Linked DNA regions of Homo sapiens: region 2 is linked to region 1. A link means that fine-mapping ties the variant in region 1 to the expression of a gene that starts in the linked region. Tissue or cell type: whole blood. Region 1 holds a variant in brackets; the other region holds the start of a gene. All regions are shown on one strand. Distances are between the middles of the regions. Region 1 overlaps MAP2K4 (mitogen-activated protein kinase kinase 4). Region 2 holds the start of MAP2K4 (mitogen-activated protein kinase kinase 4).

Region 1 (8,340 bases):
TTCTGAAAGTTCCGTCACTTATTCAAAGCAGTGAATAATCCTTAATACTGAAGTTGGTAACTTCTATGTTGCCACTATCTTCAACCATGCATACTTCTTTCTAGGATGGAACCAACCTCAAAAAGAAAAGTCCAAAGTACAGCTTGGATTTGGTTTAGATAAGTTATTAGGTCACTCAGTTGCACAGGTTCCTAAAAGTCATTTTCAGGCTTTGTAGGTAGGTGGAAAAAAGAGCTTGATAATAATTGAATAATGGAAGTAACTTTTAGCCTATATTTTACAAAAAAGACCTACCATTTATCTTAACAGTGCTGAAACCTAGTATCACTTAAAAATTTTTCTAATACATAAAATTTGAGAATTTCATAGCAGGTAAACTCTTATTTTAAACATCTTTTGAGGTTGGGCAATAAATTCTAGTGCAGAAAGCACTGTTCTGAGTAACTTGTGAATGTAGAAGTTCATCAGATTATAGAAGGCAGTGATGCTGGCTGAAGCAAGTTACCTCCCCCTTTTTTATCCTTACTTCCACCCCTCTTCTCCTTTCCCTCTTCTTTCTCCTTGCAAGTTTTAAATGCAGCTTATGGAGGTAAAATTGACATCTGATAAACTTCCCACATGTAAAGTGTACAGTTTGATATGTTTGAACAAATGTATACACCTGTAGAATTATCACCAAAATCAAGGTAATGAATATGCCCATCACTTACGAGTTTCCTTACACCACGTAGGTAATACCTGCCACCTCTCTGCTGTCCCCATTCTCAGATAACCACTGACCTGCTTTATGCCATTATAGATTAATTTGTATTTTTCTAGATTTTATGTAAACGGAATCTTACAGTATGTACTTCTCTTTTTCAGTTTGTCGTCTTTCATTCAGTATAATTATCTTGCATTTATCAGTCATTTATTTCTTTGTATTGCCAAGTACTATCTGTAATGTTCCATTATGCAGATCTATCAGTTTGTTACTCATTTACCTGTTGATGGCCATTTGGATTGTTTTCAGTTTTTGTCTGTTACTAATAAAGTTGCTTTGAGCATTTATGTACAATTGTTTGTACATAAGCTTTTATTTTCCTGGGGTAATTACATGGGGGTGGAATGGCTGGATCATATGGTAGGTGTATGTTTAACTTTTTAAAAAATGGACAAACTTTTTTCTAAGGTAGTTGTACCATTTTATACTTTCACCAGTAGTTTTTGAGAGTTCAGCTTCTTCCATGTCTATTCCAGCACTTAGTGTGATGTGTTGTGTTAATCTTTAGCCGTTCTAGTAAATGTGTGGTGGAATCTCTGTATTTTTAATTTGCATGTTTCTAATGACTAACAGTGTTGAATGTCTTTTCATGTGCTTATTTACCAACCGTATATCTTTGATGAAGTTCCTGTTAAAATCTGTTGTACATTTTTATTTAAATTGGGTTTTTTTGTTATTCGGTTTTGGGAGGTTTTTAAAAATGTGTTTTGAATACAAGTTTATTATCAGACCTATGATTTGCAGATACTGTCTCCTGTCTGCGCTTATCTTTATATATATCTATTCTTCACAGTGTTTTTGGAGAGCAAAAGTTTTTAATGTTGATATAGGCCAATTTTTAAATTTGTGTATTGTGCTTTTGATGTTGTGTATAAGAGCTCTTGTCTAACTCAAGCTCACTTAAGATTATCTCTTATGTATTCTCCTAGCAGTTTTATAGTTTTAGGTATCACATTTATACTTATCCATTTGGAGTTAGTTTTTATATATATCGAGAGTTATATATTGATGATTTTTTTTTGCATGTGGATATCCTTTGCACCTTTATCAGATATCAGTTGTCCATACAGATGTGTGTCTATTTCTGGAGTATCTGCTCTGTTCCATTGATCTGTTGTTTTTCTGTCTTTGCACTGATCTCACATGGTCTTGGACTACTCCAGCTTTATAGAAAGTCTTCAGATTTGAGAGTGTTGGTCCTTAAACTTTGTTCTTTTAAAAGTTGTTTCGGCTCTTTCATATCCTTTCTATTTTCATGTGGATTTTAGAATCCACTTGTCGATTTCTACCAAAAAACCCGAAAAAAACCAACAACAAAAAAACAACCTGCTGAAATTTTTATTGGGATTTTTCTAATTTGTAGGTCTACTGGGGGAGCATTGATATCTTAACAGTATTAAGTCTGTTGACCCTTTTTTGTGGCATCTCACTTTATTATTTTACATCTTCTTTAATTTTTCTCAGCAATATTTTATAGTTTTCGCTGTATAAGTCTTTCATGCTTTTGCTAGAGTTGCCCTTAAGTGTATAATATTTTTAATGCTAATACGTATTTTTAAATTTAATTTTCTCATGTGACTAAATGCACAAATATCATTTGATTTTTTTATATTGATCTTGTGTGCAGCAACCTTGCTAAACTCAAATTCCAGTAGCTTTTTTTACCTGCCTTCAGATTTACTACATAGATCATCATTTTGTCTGTGAATAAAGAGAGTTACTCCTTTCTTTCCCAATTAGTTCCTTTATTTATTTTTGTCTTGCCTTATTGCACTGGCTGGAACCTTCAGTATGCTGTTGAGTAGATACAGTGAGAGTAGACATCCTTGTTTTTTTTCCTGATCCTAGAGGGAAAGCATTCATGTTTCCTTCATTAAATATGATATTAGCTGTGGACTTTTCATATATATATATTTTTAATCAGGTTAAGGAAGTTTCTTTTTACTCCTAGTTTGCTGAGAGATTTTGTCAGGAATGGATGTTAGATTTTTGTCAAATTCTTTTTCCAGATCCTTGAGATGTTTTTGAGATGTATGGTTTGTTTGTTGTTTTAATAATGGTGAGTTATATGAATTGATCTCAGATATTAAACATAGCTTTTATTTCTGGGAGAAATCCAGTTGGTTAGGATGTTTTATCTTTTTTATCTATCATTGGATTCAATTTGTTAAATTACTAAAATTTAGCTAATTTGCTAAAATTCATTTAAAATTTTTGTATCTATGAGAGACATTGATGTATAGTTTTCTTTTCTTATTTTTGTCTGACTTGCATCATTGTAATGCTAGCCTCATAGGATGAGTTGGGAAGTATTTCTTCTTCCTGAATTTTCTGGAAGAATTTATATAGAATTGGTATTATTTTTTCTGTAAGTATTTGATGGAATTTACCAATGAAGCCACTTGAACTTGGCAATTTCTTTGTGAGAATATTTTTGACTGAATATCCAGCTTCTTTCAAAGATATAGTTCTATTCAAGTTACGTATTTCTTGTCGAGTGATCTTTGGTATTTGTTTCTTTGAAGAAATTTATCCCTTTCATCTAAATTATCAAATTTATTGGAATAAAATTATTCATAATATTTCTTTTTTATTATTTTAATATTGGTAGAGTCTGTAGTGTGTTACTTCTGTCTTCCCTGTCTCCCCCTCCCTCCCACTTGTTTCTGATACTGGTAATTTATGTCTTCTTTTTTTCTTCCCAATTAGTCCAGCTAGAGGTTTATCAATGTTATTGATGATCTCGATGAACCAGCTAGCTCTCAGTTAAATGATTTTCTTTTCTTTTCTTATCTTTAAAAAAAAAAAAAAAAAAAAGTCAGGGTCTTGCTCTGTGGCCCAGGCTGGAGTGCAGTGGCATCATCCTAGCTCAACCCAACCTTGAACTCCTGGGCTCAAGGGATCTTCCCACATCAGTCTCCTGAGTAGCTGGGACTACAGGCATGCACTACCACCACCCTGCTAATTGAATTTTTTTTTTTTTTTTTGGAGGTGGGGTCTCACTTTGTTGACCAGGCTAGTCTCAAACTCCTGGCCTCAAGCCATCCTCCCACCTTGGCCCCCTAAAGCATTGGAATTACAGGTGTGAGCCATGGCGTCTGGCCTCCGTTACATGATTTTCTGTATTGCTTTTCTATTATTATTTTTTTTGACGGGGAGCGGTGTTCGTTCTGATTGTGGTTTCTTCCTTTTACTTATTTTTGCTTAATTTGCTTTTTTT[G/A]TTTGTTTCTTAAGGTGGTCCATGTTCCTTTTAAACTGTGAAATTTTTTAAACATAGACTAAATTACAGAGGAGAAACAGCTACCCAAATCCTATATTGGCATATTTACTCTTTATATGTCTTCAAATATTATAAATAGAATTAAAGCCCTCATCACATTTCCCTTTCCAGATCTCATCACTACCCTGAGTGTTTCCTTTAACTTGTTTGTTTAGGTCATCCATATGTGCATTTTCCCCTACATTTTACATAATATCGCTTTATGTATTTTCACATTTAAGTAAATGGAATCCTATATGCGTTCTTTATTGTACATTTTATTCAACATAGTTTTATTCAACATAGTTTTCAAGATTTATGTAAATATAGATTCGTAATATACAGATTTAGTTAATTTATTTTAACTGTAGTATTCTAATGATTAAATACACCTTTTTATTTTATTTTTTTAGAAATAATCATAATGTAGATTGCTTCTCATTTTTTTATAATTATAAACAGCACAAAAATGAAGAATTGTTTTGCATGTCTCTTTGACAACTTAGGTTACAGATTATTTAGCATATGTCCCTGGAAATACAGTTACTAAATTTAATGATACAAATGTCTCCAACTGGAGTACCGACTTAAATTTCCACCAAAATTTCTATATCAATAATTGTATTTGGTATCAGCCATTCCTGACTGTTAGTAGCTTGCTTACTTTATAGTTTCAGTTGTTAAGGTTACCTCATGATCCACATTGGCTCCTAGAGTTCAGCTATCATGTCCACACGAAGGAAAAGAAAAGGGAAGAACTAAAAGGATTTTCCTGGAGTCACAAACCAGTGGTTTTGTGTTGATACCTCTTTGGCTGCCTTTCTATACTTTAAAGACTGGGAAATGTAGATTTTAGCCACATACATTGTACAGAGGAAAGGGGGAATGGTTATTTAGTATGCCATCAGCATTTACTGTCACAGATCTCCTTTTACCTGGTGTGTACTAACATTTGATAATAAACGTTTAATTTTTGGCAGTTTGAAATGGTATCTCACTTTTAAAATTGCATTTCCTTGATTGGTGAGATACAGAATTTTTTACATGTATTTAGGCTTTTTTTAAAAAAAAATTGCCTTTGATATAATTCTACTGAGTTTGGTCTTTCCCTAATTAGTTTAGCATAACTCTTTATTATTCAGGATACTGATCTTTTGTTTCTTTACATCCAAATAGATGTTTTTGTCTCTTATTTTTAAACTTTTGGTATGTTGTCCTTGTTTATACACAAGTGTTCATTATTATGGGGTTAAATTTAACAGGTCTTATCCTTTGTGATTTGTTGTTTTTATGTGTGTTCTTGGGAAAAATTTTTTTCCTATATAAAAGTCATGGAGAACTCTTAGAAAAAAAGTTTTAAACTTTTGCTTTTTGCAAAATCCATTTGGGAGTTTTTGTATATATATTTGTGAATGATTTAATGTCAGAATTTAATGTTTTTCTATATGGAAGGCCAGTTGTCCCAGCAGCATTCATTGAATAATGCATTCTTTTGCTATGATCTGCTTTGTTAACTTCTGTCATATATCAGATTTCTGTCTGTGCATGAACTTTTGCATCTGTTTCTTTGGTGTATTTATCTTTTATTTGTGATTGCTTCATAAAAAGTCTTTGTGTAGTAGGTCAGTATCTCTTCTTTAAAATTATCTTAGTTATTCTTGGCTCTACTTTAATATAAGCTTTAGGGTCAGCTTGTTCAGGTCCTTGAAAATTTTGATTAGAATTTAACTGAATTCTTAGATTAATTTGGGAGAATTTGACGTGCTTCTCATCTTGAATCTTCACATTTGTAATCATGGTCTGCTACTCCATTTGTTCAGGTTATTGTTATGTCCTTTAGTAACATTTTATATTTGTTTTCATAAAGGTTCTGCCTATTTTATTAGATACATTTCCTGGTGACTTAGTTTATATTTTTATTGAGAATGATATCTTTTTATTTTCGAATTAGTTATTGGTATATGTTATTGGTTATATACGGATCTTTAGGAACCCTTCCTTATGTTACCTTAGTAGTTGAGTTGTTCATCATTCTCCAGCTTTTTTTCCCCCAATAAACCCACATTTATTCACTTCTTCTGCATTTCAGACCTGTGGTCATCCTGTTTTCTGCTTGAGCATGACAGTCATGCTGCTGTCACTACCTTTTTCAGGCAGCTCAGAGCATTTCATTTTTTAAATGCAGCTCATTGCCATTGTGTTGTTTGTATGACCAAAAGGAACTGTCAGAGAGATAAGAAGGTTACATTAGGTTATGTTCCTTAAAAATCACAAAGACCTCTCTATCTCATTGCTCTTTTCTGTCCCCCCTTCTCATCTTCAGTTCTCGGTTTACTTGTTACCTTTATTCTCCCACTCCCATGTCCATCTTTCTCTTTTATTTGCCCACATTTCCCTTCCTTCTCCCTTCCATTTGGTAACTATAGTTTTTAGCACCTGCCAGGCACTTTAGTTTGTGCTTTGCATATGTTAACTCATTTGCCCTTTATCACAGTCCACTGAGGATGGTGGGGCAGTCTCATTTCATAGCTGAGGATGCGAGGAGGCCCAAGCTTATATAAGTAGAAAGTAGGAGAGCTTGGATAATGTCAGGCTTTTCAGACTCCTAATGTCATTTTTTTTTCCGCTTTGCTATATTATTGAGGTTGTTTCTTTCTACTGTTTTTATAAGTGGATGAAGTAAATGTGCTGTATGTCTCTAATAAGATTTTTTAGTAAACCTATTTAGATAGTGTCTCTAAAATAAAGCTGTGTCTGTTTTGGGTGGAGGGTGTTACTCGATCTTTCATGATAGCCATTCTCATAGATCACTCTAAAGAAAAAGAGATTTACAGAGAGAAGAAAGATTTAAATGCAGAAATAATAAGTAAAATTTACTACGTCAAATATGCTTTACAAAAACATTATGTATAGCCATGTATCTGTGAATGTTCTAGAAAGTGGTCCTTTTGTAAGAGTGCATGGCAAACGTTGATAGAAGAAACACATTAGGGACAGTGGATTCTATTCATGGGTAGTGTATTGTTCTGGGCAAGTAATTTTACTTTTAACAGGCATTAATCTCCTATATAATCCAAGGATAGGATTGATTATATAATTATTATATAATCGAAGGATAGGAGATTAATGGGTAGAAAATCTTTGATGATACAGCTGTATTTATAAATAAGTAACAACATACAGAACTGTATAATTTTTTAAAAATCATTTTGATAGTATTTTCATTTTTGTAAGGTACTTTGTAGTTCTTGTTCATCTGTGTATCCTGTACTTTTACAGTTATAATCATGGTATCTACTTTTATTTTTTATTTTTTCATGACTCATGCATCTCTCTCATGAACTGTATTCATTTTCAAAAAAATTGATTTTAGATAATCTCTTTAATGTTGTTGTATTCCCTTTTGTGAGATAGTTCCTCGGTTTCTAGTTTTGTTTTGTTTTTTCTTTTTGTAATTTATGGAACATTTAAGTTACATTCCCAGTCATAGGATGATTCTATAAAATGGTATCAACACATTTATTTCTGTTTTATTGTCAAATTGCTTTCAAATTGGTTTAAAACAATCTATAATGCAAGAAATGTTTGAATGATTCAGTTTAATTATAGCCAGCATCCAGTCATTTAACAAGTATTTATTGAGTCTTTGTTCTGGCAGAGGTTACATTCTAGTAGGGAATATATGAGACAAACATAATAAATAAGTAAATTACACTTTATATTAGAGGATGATGAAGGCTTTACAGAACAGAGCAGGATAAGGGAGTGCCTGATGGGATGACTTGCGCTTTGCATCAGTTAAAGTAGGCCTCACTGAGAAGGTGGCATTTGTACGGGGTCTTGAGGCATGGGATTTACTTTATGTATTTTTGTCTTTTTCCTTTTTTTTTTTTTTTTTTTGGCTAATTTAAGAAGTTTATGTAGTCTCTTAAGATTACTGTCATCTATTTTCATTGTTAGTAAGAATGGTTTTCTACACATTTCCTATTTTTTTTTCTATTTTGGCAAAATTTGAAATTTTAATGAAAGCACAGAAGTTTTCTGTGTAAGCCTGTCCCTGTCCATACAATTAAAGAGTGGGGAAAATTGGCTTTAACTACATTGTTTATGTTTAAACCTGAGTAGAATATTCTGTTGAAGGCTTTAACAAGAAAACAAAAATTATTACTAGTTTGACATTTGAAATAAGCAAGAATAAGATTGCTCCTTTCTATTGTATTTCCATTTTAAGTAAAGGCAAGGTGATATTTAAGATGTATAAGAATAACAGATATTTGTTATTTTATAGGGTGACTGTTGGATCTGTATGGAACTCATG
Region 2 (8,340 bases), 82 kb before region 1:
AAACTTTGGTTCTTTAATGGCATGAACTGGTCAAAGTTTCTCACAGGCCCTGTATTTCCAATTAAATTCAGTGCTCGAATGACATCCAGAAACCTGCACAGCTTGCAGCTCTCTGCCTGAAGAGGCAACATCCGTCACTGGGTGGCCTGGTCCTGAGCCCTTGGCAATTTGAGGGTGGGCGTTTTGCTCAAAGACAATTGCTAAGGCTATATGGAATATCTGGTGACTGTTCCATCCAAATAGAGGTGTCTGACCTTGTTTCTTTCCCAGAGGCTGAAATTGGGGTCCTAAGGTGAAATCCAGTTGTAAATTACTTTTTCTTTATTTGGAATGTGAAATGAAAAATGTATTCTTGAGGCTGGGTGCAGTGGCTCACCCTTGTAATCCCAGCATTTTGGGAGGCTGAGGCAGGCAGATCACCTAAGGTCGGGAGTTCGAGACCAGCCTGAACAATATGGTGAAACCCCGTCTCTACTAAAAGTAAAAAATTAACCAGGTGTGGTGGCACATGCCTGTAATCCCAGCTACTCGGGAGGCTGAGGCAGGAGAATCACTTGTGCCCAGGAAGCGGAGGTTGCAGTGAGCCGAGATCGCGCCATTGCACTCCAGCCTGGGCAACAAGAGCGAAACACCATCTCAAAAAAAAAAAAAAATGTATTTTTAGTCTAACCATTGACATATGTATCATAAAAAACAAGCAAGCTAGATTTCTCAACAAAGGTTCTCTAAGCAAGGAATACACAGACGTTACTCTTTCTCTGCAGCCTCTTTCAGGATGGGGGACTTTGATATTGCCATACATTCCTCTTAGAAATCATCTTAATTTGTTATTTTCATCTACTCTAGTGGGAAGATAAAATCACTACATGGCAGAGCCAGGAGTTTCAGGCCCATTTGGGGATTTCCTCAAGGATATCTTATAAATGTAAATTTGCTGGTTATTCATATGTATTGCTTAATTGCCTTCCCGTCTCCCCAGTGATTATGCCAGCTACCACCATTATTACTAAAAAGGTTAACTTTTTTTAAGCAATTCATTTTTCTGAACTGTGTATTAGTTTGCTAAGGGATGTCATAGCAAAAGAACCAATAAACAACATAAATGTATTTTCTCACAGTTATGGAGGCTGGAAGTCCAAGGTGTAGGCAGAGTTGGTGTCTTTTGAGGACACACTCTGTGGCTTGTAGATGATCATCTTCTCCTAGCTCTGTGTGTCTGCATCCTAATCTCTTTATAAAGACACCAGTCCTATTGGATTAGGGCCCACTCGTATGACCTCATTTTACTTTAAAGACCCTATTTCCAAATATAGTCCCATTCTGAGATGCTGGGGGTTAGGACTCCAACATGTAAATTTGGTGAGGGAGCAGAATACAATTTAGTCCATAAGAAATCATAAAACACAAATATGTAAGAGAAATGTGAGCATAAGAAAAAGTTAAAAAGCTCATACATAGCTTCCTCAGTTGGAACAAATCAAAGTGCTTTCTTGTTTTTGCCATATGCACATCTAATTATTGGCTCTTACTAGTTTACAATACCAACAGCAATGCAAGTATATGTCAGTTTTATCACAAACTCAGAATTAGGTATTCTTAAAAATAAGATTAGTTATATTTTTATTGTATTTCTCTTTTAATTCAGTTTCCCAATTTCCCTTAATGAATTTGCTAGGTTGAAGGTTTTCCTATATATATATAAATATAACTATATATATACATATTTTTTTTAATAGATGGAGTCTTGCTCTGTCACCCAGGCTGGAGTGCAGTGGCACAATCTCGGCTCACTGCAACCTCTGCCTCCCAGGTTCAAGCGATTCTCCTGCCTCAGCCTCCCTAGTAGCTGGGATTATAGGTACCTGCCACCACACCGGCTAATTTTTGTTTTTTTCTGTATTTTTAGTAGAGACAGGGTTTCACCACGTTGGCCAGGCTGGTCACTAACTCCTGACCTCACGTAATCCACCCGCCTTGGCCTCCCAAAGTGCTGGGATTACAGGTGTGAGCCAACATCCCCAGCCTTCTTTAATATATGTTATTTATAATATTGGATGTGTGTGTGTGTGTGTGTGTGTGTGTGTGTGTGTGTGTGTGTTTAAATTAATTTTCTAGTAGTTGCCTAATCTGTAGTGCTGCTTCTAGGATTTCTATTAAAAGAATATATATTAAATTCTTATTAAAGGCCAGTTATGATGGCTCATAATTAAGATGCCCTAGGAGCAACAAGAGCTGGGTGGGCTACTGATTTCCAGATGGGAATCTGGCCATGTTTATAAGACCTGGACTTGAAGATATTGGGCAGCCAACGAGGCCCATGGAGGAGAATTCTGGCGGGCTCTCCACTGAAGTACACCTACCTGCTCTCACCTTCAATTTGCCTTTAATGCCTCTCCACTTGATGTTTACGGCTAGCCACTTTTAGGATCTGAGCCATCAAGATGATGGATGAAATTGGGTTTGGAACAAGAAGGCAGGGCTATTTTGACCCAGGACACATTTCCAACATGCTGTGAAGAACTCTCAGCATCAAATAACATCTGGGTGGAAGAAGTTTTGGGAAAGAAGTCTAGCTGTAGATCACACAATGCTTCTAAATGGGAGAAAATGTCCAGCTCCATGGCTTAGATTCTTTGGGAAGTAGGATAACTGGCTATTCCATTTTAGGCAAGGCTGCCTGGCCAGAAACCCATGTCTTACCATTTCGAGTACATTATGGTTGGCTTACAAATCGTAGCCTCATAGAGAACTTTTTCTTCTTTTAGCTACTGTCTTCCTAAAATAAAAGTCTCTGTGCAAAGCAATGGAAGAAACCTCATATTGTTTTTTGGGGTTGTCATTTTATGTAACTTACAATAATGACTACGGCTCGTCTTATACAAGATGTAAAGGATTTGGGAGAGGGAATCCAGTGTGCATTTAGGGGAAGATGGTGATGTAGATAGCATATTTCAGGAGGCTGGGAAGTGTCGAGTGCTTAAATATATGCTTCTCAAATTTAATGGGCATACAAATTACCTGGTGGTATTATTAAAATGTAACCTCTAATTCAGTAGTTTTGGGATGGGTCCATGGACAGCACTTTGGTTAGTTCCCCTTGGGACTCCCCTTTCCCCTCAGAGAAGTGTAGAGGGTTGGGGTATTGGGCTTAAGAGGAGTTCCAGACTGTAACCATAGCTCTAGGTAACTCCCTTCTGGAAGTGATGTGTTAGCGACTGGAGGAGAAAGGGATCCCTGGGATCCTTTTCAGCTTTACTATTCTGATTTGGGGTTCTGAGATTCCAACAAAGTGGACTTTTGGGAGTCACAGACCTCCATGGGAATGATGAAAGCTGCGTACCTTCTTTCCGCACAAATGCAGGCCCACCTTTAATTCTGCAAACCACTTTAGGCCCCGCGGGCCCGCAGCCCTGGTCCAAGACAGCTGTCTGCTTCACAGGTCGCGCACCCAGAGCCGGGCGGTTCTGCAGCTCAGCATCTGGCCCGGGCTGCGCGTCGGGCTCTGGCGGGGGCGTGTCAGGAGGCGTGTCCGGGGCGTGTCGGAGGCGGGGCCAAGGCGGGGGTAAGCCTCGCCCCTCGGCCGTGCGAGAGGCCGAGCTTGCTGCATTGCAGCCGCCGCGGCGCCGCTCGGCTCTTCACTCCCAACAATGGCGGCTCCGAGCCCGAGCGGCGGCGGCGGCTCCGGGGGCGGCAGCGGCAGCGGCACCCCCGGCCCCGTAGGGTCCCCGGCGCCAGGCCACCCGGCCGTCAGCAGCATGCAGGGTAAGGAACGCGGCCGCGCCGAGATCCCAGCCCCCTAGCGCGGCAACCCGCGTCGTCGCGGCCTGCCCCAGCGGACGCCCCCGGACCCGGCTGAGGAAGCCACGGCAGCCGCCGGCTTCTCCCTCTCTCCCTCCCCGGCTTCCCGCCCCGCTCCCGGCCGCCTCCGGCCCGGCTTGGATCCGGGCTCCGGCCCGCATAGGCCCCGGCCGCGGCCTCTGCCTGCGCTTGGCCCCTGGGCCCTACCGGGCTCTCAGCAGGCCCGCAGGGCCCACCTGGTCCGGGACCGCCCCCGCGGCCGTCCCCATCGCCCCCGCCGCTTACCTGGCGCCCGCCCGGCCCCCGTTTCCGGGAACGCGCCGGCTCGGGGCTGCGGCGGAGCGGGAGGGGCGTCGGGCCTGCCCCCTGGTCCCTGACGCCGCTCAGGTAGGCGGCGAAGACAGCGGCCCCGGCCGGCGCCCCTCGGCCCCGCCGCCGCAGTGGGCCCCGCTCAGGGCCATCTTGGCTGTCGCCGGGCACAGCTGGAGCCGGACCACCGAGCTGACCTCGGGCTACGGGGGCCTCTTGGAACCTGCGTTTTCAAACTTTTGCAGGGTTTCTGTGCGCTGGAAGGGATGGGGGTGGGGGGCGGGTTGCCCAGGCCTGTGCCACCTGTAAGGTAGGTAGGCTGCATTGGCCTGGGAGAGGCATTTTGTTCCAGGCCAGGGATTTCTGTGTTAGCATTGCGTGCAGGAAGAAAAAAAAAAAAAAAAAAAAAGAAGACTTAATTTGGTTTAAATGGAGAGATACAGGAAATAGACAGGGGTCAAAGTGATACTGTAGTGTCTGGACATTTGAGGCAGCTCTGCTAATTAATGACTTTCCCCACTGGGAATGCTTATTAGCTGTGTATGGCTTTTGACAGGGGGTGTTGTGAAAATACCAGGCCAGGCCCGAGCCTGTTAGGGACCATTTCCTTAAATTTACTGGGGAATTTTGAGTAGTAATGCTATTTTTAAAACAGGGAATCTCAGAACTCTCTTGACAACTTTAGCAAACTGCTTGTGTTGAATTATTAACAGAATAAGGGTTGGGGTACCCTTGGTAGTCAGTGTGACCATGGTTACTTTTTGATTCCATTCCTCTTAAAGGGCTTCTAGCATTTAGTTAGGTTCAACAGACATTTATTGAATAGTTCATGTTTATAGAGCATGCCATAATTCAGAAAGAAGAGACAGGATTTTATTTATCTTTACATCCCTGTCACCCTCCCCATGAAATAATTTTAATATACATAAAAACCAGTGATAGATATATAGACAGGATGATGTCAGAGCTTAGAGGACACTTTCTGTGCAGGCCCTCAGATAATTCATTCAAATTGAATTAGTTATTGGATGCCCACTGTGTTGCACAGCACATTATACTGATGAAGTATAAGATTGACTTCCTGACTGTACAGCTTTACAATTTAGGTGGTGGTGGTTGGGGCGAAATGAAATGGCAAAATGACAATTTAGGATTGTATTTCTTGTTCCAGATGGGTGACTTACAAAGCTTATAAAAACAAGGTGATTTGTTTGTTTGTTTTATTGGTGGGGAGGCTGACAGTTTGAAATAGCTGGATACAGTGTGTTTTTTTGGTTCAAAAAATATTTATTGAGCATCTGCATAAAACGCTCATGCTGAGTTTATAGAGAATTGAACATCTCTAACTGTCCTCATGGAGGTTATCCCCCTGTGAAGATGGGGGAGGGAAGGCTATTTAGCTAAACATGAAAAATTACTAGTTGGAAAAGTAATAAAGGTAACAAGCTGGGTTTTGTGATAGAAGATAATAGAGGGCAGTCCGCTTGATAAGATGGTCAGAGAAGGCTTGTCTGGAAAGCTAACCCTCTTTTACCTGAAGACGGTTCTAGGCAGAGGAACTGTGTGTATGAAGGTTCCAAAGCAGGGAAGAGCTTGGAGTGTTCTAGGAACTCCTAAGGCAGTGGTTAGGACTTTTTCTGATGCTGTCCGTTCTCCTCAGCCCTTGTATGTTGATACCCAGTTAACTAAACTTTCTAATAAGCAGAACCCATTTTAGAAGGAAAAAGGACCTAAGACCTCTCTATGAATTATTGCCGAATTTTCTTTTTTATCAATATTGTGTCTAGTCTTGATTGATTCAGGAATGTGTTATATCTTGTTCTTGAAACTTTTTTCATTAGTCAGAATGAAGTGCTTGATATTCTCAGGATGTTGTCTAGAACAGTCTGTTATAAAGCTTGAACTTAAGCAGCAATTTAGGATCCTTCTTTTTGGTTTGTTTTGTTCTGTATCTTAATTGTGAGGCCCTTGAAGAGGAAATCTTATAAGAACCCAAAAAGAAAGATTCCCATCCAATTGTATGGGAGTCACACCTCCCATACTGTACTTCATCTGCCAAGGGTCTTCTTTTGCTTTAGATCAGACTTCACAGAGTGGGCCTTAGAAGATGTTTGATGTACTTCCATTCCTTCTCCCCCAATCTAATTATACTTGCCACTCAAAAAACTTCCTTTCTGGGAGTTGTTAATGACCATGCTCTCTGAAACAGCAGGATTCAGTTGTGGAACATAAGGAATGTTTCATGCAGTAGACATTGGACATCCTCTTATGTGGTAAGCACTGTGGTGGGCACTGGATAACCTTGAATACTTTTTCATGGCTTCATGTTTATGGCCCAAGAGTGGTCCAGGCTGGCCAATATTGCTTTCTTAATATACTGCTTAAGAACCAGAGCTCTGGAGTTCTGGGTTTGAATCTCTTGGCCAGGATTCAGATATGCGTTTTGTGACCAGGGGCAATGAACTTGGCCTTTCGAAGCCTCAGTTTCTCACTTGGAAAGTGGGAATAACGCTTACCTCCCCGGTGGCTTTGAGAATGCATGTAAGCCTGGGACCTGACATGTAGTAAGGATGCAATACACATTAGCCATCATTGTTAGTAGCGACAATATTGTTATGGTCTCATTAATGGTCCCTTTTACTATTGGTAAATGAGTCCCTAACCTCTCATTATTTACCACACAATTTCTTTAGTTCATATTACTAGGTCCCACTGTTCTCTCTAACCTGTTGATTTCCCCACTTTTCATTATTGAGCAGTCCTTTCAGAGTATCCTAGATGAGATTTTATTCTACTTCAAACTCCGGATCTGTTTTTTTCTGGATCTGAGGACTCTCAAATGAATTACAATGTGAACGATATGAAACAGAAGTCTAGCTATCAATTTGCTCTACTCATTTTTTTCATAGGGGATGGGTAGATGGTTGGAATGGGATTTATAGTGAATTTGATTATAAGAGTAATCAACAGACGTAGCTTTGGTTGCATGTTTATGCTAACAGTTATGGCTTCTAATCTGGCCATTTTTGCCACTGTCCCTCAGATAATAGGGAATAGCTGCTAATTTTGTTATTACTCAAAAGATTTGAGTGTCTTCACTCATTCTGACTCATTTTTTTTTCATGTTCATTCACAAACACACCCAACCTTTATACGTTGAGTAGTTCTTAGGCTTTGGTTCTTTGATGACTAAAGCTAACAAAATGTAGATCTGTTTGCCAAGTTAGGTAAGTGGTTTTATGAAAGTATATTTGGCATTAGGATGAGTTTGCATTTGAGAGAGGAAACAATACTCAAATTAACTACTCTGAGAAATGTTTTTATTCTTAATGTTTCATCAATAATTTGTTAATGTAGATAGATTTAATAGGAAAATTTCTTGCATATTAGGGCCTCATTCTGTGGAAAAGTATTATTCTTTAGTCCAAGAAATTTTAGCCAACCTAAAGTACGGAATTGACTTGTAGCATTCAAGAACCTTCCTAGCCATGGCTAGGGCTTTCCCTTGTGGCAAATCTAAAGCCTCGTGACTTTAGCTGGGTTAGTGTGAATCCTGTAAAGAGAAGATCCCGTTATACCAGGTAATTAATCTTAGATATGTATAGCAAATAGTACTAGATAGTATGGTTGGCATGTTAGAGAATAGCATATTCTGATTAATAGAGCTTGCCAGTTGAGAATTCAACAGCTTCTATAATGAAATTGCATAGGCAGGATGATTCCTTTTCCAGTAGTAGCTGTAGCAGCTAGCGTTCCCATAGCATGTAGTAATGTTTAAGAAACAAAAGGATGTTGAAGTGTAAAGAGCACTGGACTTAGACTCAGAAAACCATGGTTAAGGTAACTGCTCTGCTGTTTACAAACACTGAGATTTTAGGGAAATTCCCTAACTTTTCTCAACTCTCTGTTCAGAAATTTCTCATCTGTTAAAATAGGGATAATGCCTAACCTGTAGGGCCATTGTAAGAATCACATTCTTAATGCATGTGAAAGTGCTTTGAAAATTATAGAATATCTATAAGTATATACAGATTGTTATTAGACATGATTATTTGCCTGCTGTAGCTACTAATCACTTAAAATGTAATAGATTTCAAAGATCGCTTAGCTGAGAAATGTCAGTTTTCAATAGATGTTTTCTTAAAATGGTTAGAATAGAATCTATAATTGATTCAGAAAAACATTGAGCCATTTGTAAAATACTTGTTACAAGAAATAGTTAGAAAGTATATG

What was found.
Region 2: it holds the start of MAP2K4, and the variant in region 1 is fine-mapped to the expression of MAP2K4 in whole blood (INTERVAL, PIP above 0.99).

Annotation. Positions count from the first base shown.
Region 1 is chr17:12,099,480-12,107,819 of GRCh38, forward strand. It overlaps MAP2K4 (mitogen-activated protein kinase kinase 4), which reads left to right. Exons shown (of 11, transcript NM_003010.4): 5 at 8,311-8,340. Among named protein-coding and RNA genes, the nearest start is that of MIR744, 22 kb to the left of the region's middle. The variant G/A (reference allele first, on the strand shown) is at 3,984.
Region 2 is chr17:12,017,240-12,025,579 of GRCh38, forward strand. MAP2K4 (mitogen-activated protein kinase kinase 4) reads left to right here and starts at 3,638. Exons shown (of 11, transcript NM_003010.4): 1 at 3,638-3,762. The coding sequence starts at 3,648. It also overlaps a transcript of ZNF18 not described here. RefSeq lists an enhancer at 3,438-3,938 and a silencer at 3,475-4,354.